2 linked regions of the Homo sapiens genome follow. The protein of the gene in region 2 purifies or fractionates together with the protein of the main gene of each other region. This does not show direct contact. Each region holds a gene or a part of one and is shown on either strand. Other genes may lie near its edges. The genes, in order: POTEE and MOGAT1.

Region 1 (4,387 bases), about 91 Mb from region 2:
CCCGTCTTTTCCCAAACCCTTCTCCTCACTCCTGCTGCTCACCACTTTTTCGCCCTTCATCTACCCGAAAACTGTTTTCCTCATCGTCTTTTCCCCCGCTCCTCCTTGCCACCCTCTTTCCCTTCTCTACCCAAAAACATTTCCCCATAGTCTTTTCGCAAAGCCTTCTCCCCACTCCTGCTCACCTCCCCTTTTCCCCCTCCATCCACCCCCCAGAATATTCCCTACTGTCTTTTCACAGTCTTCCCCCCTTCCCACTCGTCCTCTTCTTTGCCCTATCCTGCTTGCCACTCTCTTTTTTGCCTTCCATCTACCCCAAACTATTTTCCCATTTTTTCCCCAACTCTCTTTCCCTGCTCCCTCTCGTCACCCTCTTTCCTCCTCCTCGTTACCCTCTTTCCCCCCACCATCTACCCAAACACTTTTTACCCACTGTCTTTTCTTTCTCCACCGTCTTTCTTTCCTGCCCACTATCTTTTTGCAAAACCTTGTCTTCCTCCCGCTGGCTACCCTTTTCCCTTCCCCCACCTGTTACCCTCTTTTCCCCCTCTATCTACCCAAAACCTTTTCTCCCCACTGTCTTTTCACAAAACCTTCTCTCTCTACTGCTCAACGCTGTTTCTCCCCCCCACCACCCTCTCTTTCCTCCTCCCTTGCCACCCTCTTTTCCTCCTCCATCTACCCATAAACATTTTACCCACCATCTTTCTGCAAAACCTTCCCTCCCTGCCGCTCCCCACCCCGTTTTTCTCCCTCCATCTACCCAAAAACTTTTTTTCCCACTATCTTTTCCCCACCGCCTTTTTGCAACGCGCTCTCCTGCTCACTATCCTCTCTTCCCTTTGGCACTAACCACCCTCTTTACCCCCTCCATCTATCCCAAAACTCTTTTCCTCCTCTTACCGCTTCCGCCGCACTGCCGTCTCGGTCGCGGTTACCACCAGTCGCAGCGAGGCGAGCCACGGTGTAGCGGCTCCAGCCTCCAGCGTACGGCTGGTGATTACCCATTCCTGGTCCTCTAAGCCGGGCACTGAGCAGCTCCACAGGAAAATACGGGAACGTGGAAGAGCCTGACTTCCCTTCAGCAGCAGGCGTATACCGCGGTTATATACAGGAGGATTCCTGACTGCATGTTCTGATTGGATGAGAAAAACCCTCCAGGGTTACTTGGATTGGACTTTATTATCATGTTCTGATTGGATGAGAGCCAGTCTTAAGACAACCAATCACAGCATGAAAATAAAGTCCAATCAGAGTAGGCCTAGAGGTTTTTCTCTCATCCAATCAGAACATGTAGTCTGGGAACCACATGTGCGTAACCTCAGTACGTAAAGCATGCGGAGGTGGCGTCAGGTCATTTCAGGCTCTTAAGTGTGGGCGTTTGGTAACCGGCATGGCTGCTACCTGTTTCTGGCTGGAGCCTCGGACACTGGCTCACTGCAGTTGGTGGTGTCCACAGAGCGGTAGGAGGGCAACTAGTAGCGGGAGCTTCTCCTGCCAGGCAGGAAGACGAGTAGAAGGGAGCAGCACCGACGCATGCTGGAGGCTGGAGCCTGAGCCCCTGGGGCTCGCCTTGCTGTGTTTGGTGGTGACGTGGGACACTGCAGCTCGGCCAGAGTGGTAGAAATGTCCTGGTGTAGGTGAGTTATCCGGGGATGTACTGCCCGCCTGTGGGGGCAGGGGTTGGGTGTCCTATTGGGGCTCACTGCCCGAGGCTGCACTGCCTGTGTCAGGGGGCTGGTTGGGGGCACTCTCCGAGGTTGCATTGCTGGCGGTGGAGGGGGGCGGTTTTGGCTGGCTGTCCGGGGCTACACTGCCCGTGGTGGCGGGGGTGGTGGGGGGGAGGCAGGTTGTGTGCACTAACGTGTACTGCCGGTGGCGGGGGAGGGGTTAGGGGCACTATTTTCTGCTGCACTGCCCGGGGCAGGGAGTGGTTTGGGTGGTTATTTGGAGCTACAATGCTGGCAGCGGGGGGTGGTTTAGGAGTGTTGTCGGGTGCTGCACTGCCCTTACTCAGGGTGCGCTATCAGGAGCTGCGCTACCTGTGGTGGGGTGGGGGCGGCGATTTTGGGGCACTGTCTTGTGCAGCAACACCTGTGGCTGGGTCAGGTTGTGGGCACTATCGGGTGCTACACTGCCTGTGGAAGGGGTGGTTGGGGGGGGGTATTGGGGTTACACTGCCTGCAACTGGCACAGGGTGTGTTGGGTGTGCTGTCCGGGGGCTACACTGCCGGCGGCAGGGGTCAGGTTAGGGTTGCTATGGGGGCTATACTGCCAGTGGTGTTGGTCGGCTGCAGAGGTGGTGGGGACAGCAACAGCCATGGTCTCCTTGCTCCTTCGGGTAACTCTTCTCTTTTCCAGACTCCAGAGTTCCTGCTCGTGCAATCTTGAGCAGGGCAGGGCCCCCACACCCACTGCGGTTCTCCGGCCTGCACCTCCCGCCCACACCCCATGCTCTGTGTTGGGGAGACCACCTGGGACTACCGGGTGGGGATTAGTGGGCATCGCGGGGGACTGTGGGAACAGGGCACTGTGGGTGGAGGTGTCAGGAACGGGAACCAGCAGTTGAGTGGGGAGGGCTGGCTGGGTCTGAGTTTCTCCTACTCCTGCTCCCCAAGGAGTGCAGCCCTGGTGGGCCCAGCAATTTCTGGCCAGTTGCACCTGGATGGGGGTGGTTTCAGCATAGGCACTCACACCCGCCCCAGTTCCTGGCCACCTTTTGCCAGAAAGAGAGGCTGGACTTCGGTGGGTGGGTGTGAGTGCCTTAGCTGAAGCTGGTCCCTGCCACCCAGTGGCCAGCATGACAAGGTGAGGCTCTAACGTTACCACTCCCTGCATCCCATTCTAGGCTTTTCTGGCTTTGCCGGTCTAGCTGCTCCAAGCCAGGCTGGAGGAGGAGGAGAAGGAATCACCTGTGGTACGCTGGAGCCTGCATGTGGCGTGACTCTGCAGCTCGCCTCGTGTGACTGATGGCAGCCACGGAGACTGCAGCTCGACAGGAGTGGTAGGAGGGTGCCCGCGGGGGCAAGGTGGTAGGAACCTTGTAGGGTGGGCTGCTGCATTGACGGCGACAGCAACTGTATTGGCATTGGTGCTAGTGGTGGTAGTGGCAGAAAGTCTGGGGACTGGGAAGGGGGAGTAGGAGCACTGCAGGGCCCAGTCCGACCTGGGGTGGGGAGGAACCTGCTGGTGCTGTACCATGGGCCTCGGTGGCAGTGGTGGAGGTGCACTTAGGGAAAGGAGTCCTCCCCCTTCTCTTGCAATCTCTGGAGGGTGGCCTCCTTCTGAGCCAGGCATGAGTGGCAGCATTGTCTCATTCTTAACAAAATTTAGGGGGTGACTGTGTGTGTGTGTGTGTGTGGCTTTTTTTTTTTTTTTTTTTTTTTTTTTTGAGACAGAGTCTCGCTCTTTTGCCCAGGCTGGAGTGCAGTGGTGCGATCTCGGCTCACTGCAAGCTCTGCTTCCTGGGTTCACCCCATCCTCCTGCCTCAGCCTCCCTAGTAGCTGGGACTACAGGCGCCTGCCACCACGCCCAGCCAATTTTATTTTTGTATTTTTAGTAGAGATGGGGTTTCACAGTGTTGGCCAGGATGGTCTAGATCACCTGACCTCATGATCCGCCCACCTTGGCCTCCCAAAGTGCTAGGATTATAGGCGTGAGCCACCACTCCCGGTCATTTTTTCCTTCTTTTTTGTTGTGATGGTCTTGGACTTTTTCAAATTTTGTGAATTGGGGAGGGGATAAAAGGTGTCATAATAGGCCTTCTAATTCCTGCACCTGTTCTTTTTGCTTTTTCTAGTCTGTGTATTCTTCTCATCTTCTTGTTCCTCTTCATTTTCTTTTGCTGCTGCTTCTATTTCATGTTTCTATTCTTGTTTCTCCTCCTCTTTTTGTTTTCTTTATGCCAAGCAATGGCCTTAACAAACAACAAGCCAAAATTGTCACTGTGTTGTATTTTTAAAATAACTGGTCCTTTACTATGTTTTAGGGATGAGGAAAAAAATCAGTTGTATAATTAGTTACTTGAATAGCTATGCTTTCATGATTGTGTTAAACCACTTATGCCTAGTGTTCCATTATTGGAATGGTAAGCATGAGGGAGTTAATTACATCCTACTGCTCAAGGTCATTAGAAGGTTTGATTTTTCACTCGTGCAAAAATTCAAAAAATTGCAGCCTCTGGCATAAATGGGCTAATGCGTTATAAGTAGTTATTCAGAGAATCAAAAAATGAAGCATCACATAAAAATATTGGTGGCAAACAGCCATTTCATCTCTCTCACATATTTGGAGCTATGCAGGAGTCACGGGGTAAGTTCTAATTTATGAGATTATTAAGTGAACTGTATTGCCTTCATTTTCTCTGCCACCATTTCCTTTGTTTTC
Region 2 (3,809 bases):
TGCCATACTTTCCTTTGTGTTCCTCAAACAATTTCCTAAGTTCCTCCATATAGGTCTGATGTAACTCCTCAATCTGCTCCTGGGTCGGGTTCAGAGTCTGACGAACAGGGATCGGGCGGCCAACTGCAAATCAGGGAATACATCATACGTGAGGAACTAAAACCACTCCACCACAGACCGCCGCCCCTAATGCACAGCTGTGAACACAACTGCCAATCAGAATCCCTCCAGCCTGCTCACTCCAATCCTTGTTTCCTTTCACTGGCTGCCTGCAGTGGTCACACCACTCCATCTGATAACAAATAAAGAACTTTCCTCCTCAGCAGACACTGGATTGTCGGGACCCTGGTGGTTTTGACTTTGAGTCAAATGAGCTACTGTGCTGACTGCAGCTGGGAGGTGAGTGGACATAGCTGTGTGTCCACGTCACCAGCTTCCTCCCTCTGGAACAGTTGACAGCCAGACCATAGTGCCCTGATTATTACTGACTGTGAATCCTCACGTCACGTGGCAGTCCTCTAGTCTGACTCTTCTTTTTGAGACAGAGTCTTACTCTGTCACCCAGGCTGGAGTGCAGTGGCACAGTCTCAGCTCACTGCGAACTCCGCCTCCCGAGTTCAAGCGATTCTCTTGCCTTAACCTCCCACTGAGTAGCTGGGATTACAGGCTCCCACCACCATGCCCGGCTAATTTTTTTTTTGTATTTTCAGTAGAGACGGGGTTTTGCCATGTTGGCCAGGCTGGTCTTGAACTCCTGACCTCAAGCTGGAATTACAAGGGTGAGCGACTGGCCAGGCCCAGTCTGCCTCTTTTGAGTGTCTTTCTAAACAATTAAAAAATACATATCTTCACAGCTAAGTATCTGTATTAGAGAAATACACATAAATGACGTGGATTCCATTGTTTGTAATAGCGGGTAACTGAAAAACAGCTAACGTCTCAATAGAAAAACTGTTAAATAAACCATGTAATAGTCATTCAATAGAATCCTAGGCAGAAATTTTTAAACAATGAAATAATATAAATATGTGTACACATACACAAATACACACAGATGTCTAAAATGTATTAAGTGGAAAAATAATTTGTAAAATAATACAGTATGATCCATTTTTGGAAAAAATGTTTATATTCCTAGAAGTATTATACGTTTTTAGTGCATGGAAAAAAGTCCGGAAAGAGAGAGAAACATAAAAGTTCCTTTTTGGTAAGGACGTAGGGATGGGGAAATTTCACTCTAACTGTGTTATATAAATTTTCTACAAATGAGAATGCATTTGTGTTTTTCCAAATACACTAATTAAAAACAAATCTGGCAACCTCTATACATATTTTAAAAGGTGTTTATATAACATCTCACTTGTCTCTGATTTTTAGAAAATACAAAAATTCCCATGGCTTTGGCTCTTGCACTCGCTGCGCCACCTGCTGGTCGGATGCTGCTACTGATGCCAAGGGTTGAAAATGTACAGGATGGCCGGGCGCAGTGTCTCACGCCTGTAATCCCAACACTTTGGGAGGCTGAGGCGGGTGGATCACCTGAGGTCAGGAGTTCGATACTAGCCTGACCAGCATGGCGAAACACCGTCTCTACTAAAAATACAAAAATTAGCCGGACGTGGTGGCGGGCACCTGTAATCCCAGCTACCCGGGAGGCTGAGGCAGGACAACCTCTAGAACCCAGGAGGCAGAGGTTGCAGTAAGACCGGATTGCGCCACTGCACTTTAGCCTGGGGGACAGAGCAAGACTCCGTCTCAAAACAAACAAGCAAACAAACAACAACAAAAAAAAGAAAATGTACAGGAAGTTCAATGAGGCAGCAAACTGCTGCCTCTGACCTCATTAGCTTGGGCATGAGGTCAGGTGGGCTCTAGGTAATGAATGGGACCCACAGTAGAGCGACCTTTGTCCTATCCTGAGTCATCCCATGTCACATACGAGGTTCTGATTCATGTCAGTAAGAGTAGGTGGTTAGCTAAGCAAAATATGAACAAATGTTAAGTCACAGAGAAGGAAGTGATAAATGACATCAGTATGGGAGCTGAGGGGGCACAGAGGACACACACACATACACACATCCTTACTGCAACATTAATATTCTCAAATTGCTAAGAATTTAACCACACATAGCCTTGAAAAGCTCATGTGGTTTTCTTTGATAGCTTGGATGTCACATTTATACATAGTAGACATAAGTCCTGTTTAACTCAACACAAAGAACTGGAAACAACCATCTCACTGTCAATTGTGGCTGGAAATATGGACTAGCAGAGGCCAATGTAGTGATGAGGTGGAACTGGGAGCGGGAGTTGCACAAAAAGCACAAGGCTGGGCTGGGTCTAGTCCCAGCTCACCAGTAAGTGCCCTGAGCAGGTGACTTTCTCTCTGGCCTTAATTTCCTTTCCCTTTCCCTTTCCCCTTCCTTGCCTCCCTTCCCTCCCTTCCCTCCCTTCCCTCCCTCTTTCTCTTTTCTTTTCTTTCTTTCTCTTTCTTTCTCTTTCTTTCTTTTTCTTTCTTTCTTTTTCTTTCTTTCTCCTTCCTTCCTTCCTCCCTCCTTTCCTTCCTTCCTTCCTTCCCTCCTTCTTTCTCTCTCTCTTTCTTTCTCTTTCTTTCCCCTCCCTTCCTTCCTTCCTTCCTTGTTTTTCTTTCTGTCTCTCTTTCTTTCTGAAATGGAGTCTTGCTCTGTCAACCATGCTAGACTGTAATGGTGTGATCTCGTCTCACTGCAGCCTCCGCCTCCTGGATTCAAGCAATTCTTGTGCCTCAGCCTCCCCAGTAGCTGAGATTACAGGCATGTGCCACCACGCCCAGCCAACTTTTTTGTATTTTTAGTAGAGACAGGGTTCACTATGTTGGCCTTGCTGGCTTCAAACTTCTGGCTCCAAGTGATCTACCAGCCTCAGCCTCTCAAAGTGCTAGGTCGGCGTGAGCCACCACAGCCAGCCTCTCTGGCCTTAATTTTCACATGCATAGGATAAAAGAATTCCAAGATCTTGAAGCATTCTTCCAGCACTGAGCTTTTTTGTTGTTTGAGGAAGATATGGAGAAATCTACATGTAAATCTAAGCAAATTTGTGGCTTTGTTAAAATAGCTTCTGTTTTCTTAGTGAAATTATTCCAGTGAGAGAGGTTAATGTAACTATTCAGGGTAGGGGTAAGGGACCAGTAAAAAGACTCAGTGGTCTAAGAAGATGAAGTGTGTTCTTCTCTGCTTACTTTAGCTAGTACTCGTACATTCTGAATTAGTGAGTCTTCTTTCCTCTGAGCTATCCTACAGCTAATTTCAATCCTGTTCTTTTCTCATTAATTGTTTTACTACATTTCAGATGGTTCTTCCAGAGAGCTTAAGCATGCTCACATATGGAATGAATTTTTTTTTTTTTTTTATACAGAGTTTTTCTCTTTCTCCCAGGCTGGAGTGAAGTGGCATGATCTGAGCTCACTGCAACCTCTGCCCCCCAGGTTCAAGCAATTCTCCTGCCTCAGCCTCCCAAGTAGTTGGAATTACAGGCACGCACCACCATGCCAGGGTAATTTTTGTGTTTTTAGTAGAGACAGAGTTTCGTCATGTTGGTCAGGCTGGTCTCAAACTCCTGACCTTGGGTTATCCACCTGCCTCGGCCTCCCAAAGTGCTGGGATTATAGGCGTGAGCCACCACGCCCAGCCTAGAGTGAATTTATAATCATAAGACTTATCCCTTTAAACTGTGAGATAGACATAATCTTCTTTTCTTTGCCTTAGTTGTAGGAAAAGTGAGGAGCTGAAAGTTCCTAAACTATACTCAAAAAAGCCCAGGAAATTAATACG

What was found.
Region 1: the proteins of MOGAT1 (region 2) and POTEE purify together in Homo sapiens (affinity purification with mass spectrometry; one large-scale study listed by BioGRID and IntAct). This does not show direct contact.

What each region holds. Positions count from the first base shown.
Region 1 is NC_000002.12:131,208,180-131,212,566, forward strand, and holds the start of POTEE (POTE ankyrin domain family member E), read left to right. Parts: upstream 1-1,356; 5' UTR 1,357-1,640; intron 1,641-2,848; 5' UTR 2,849-3,004; intron 3,005-4,387.
Region 2 is NC_000002.12:222,706,050-222,709,858, reverse strand, and holds part of MOGAT1 (2-acylglycerol O-acyltransferase 1), read right to left. Parts: intron 124-3,809; coding exon 1-123. UniProt on the Homo sapiens protein: Involved in glycerolipid synthesis and lipid metabolism. Catalyzes the formation of diacylglycerol, the precursor of triacylglycerol, by transferring the acyl chain of a fatty acyl-CoA to a monoacylglycerol, mainly at the sn-1 or sn-3 positions.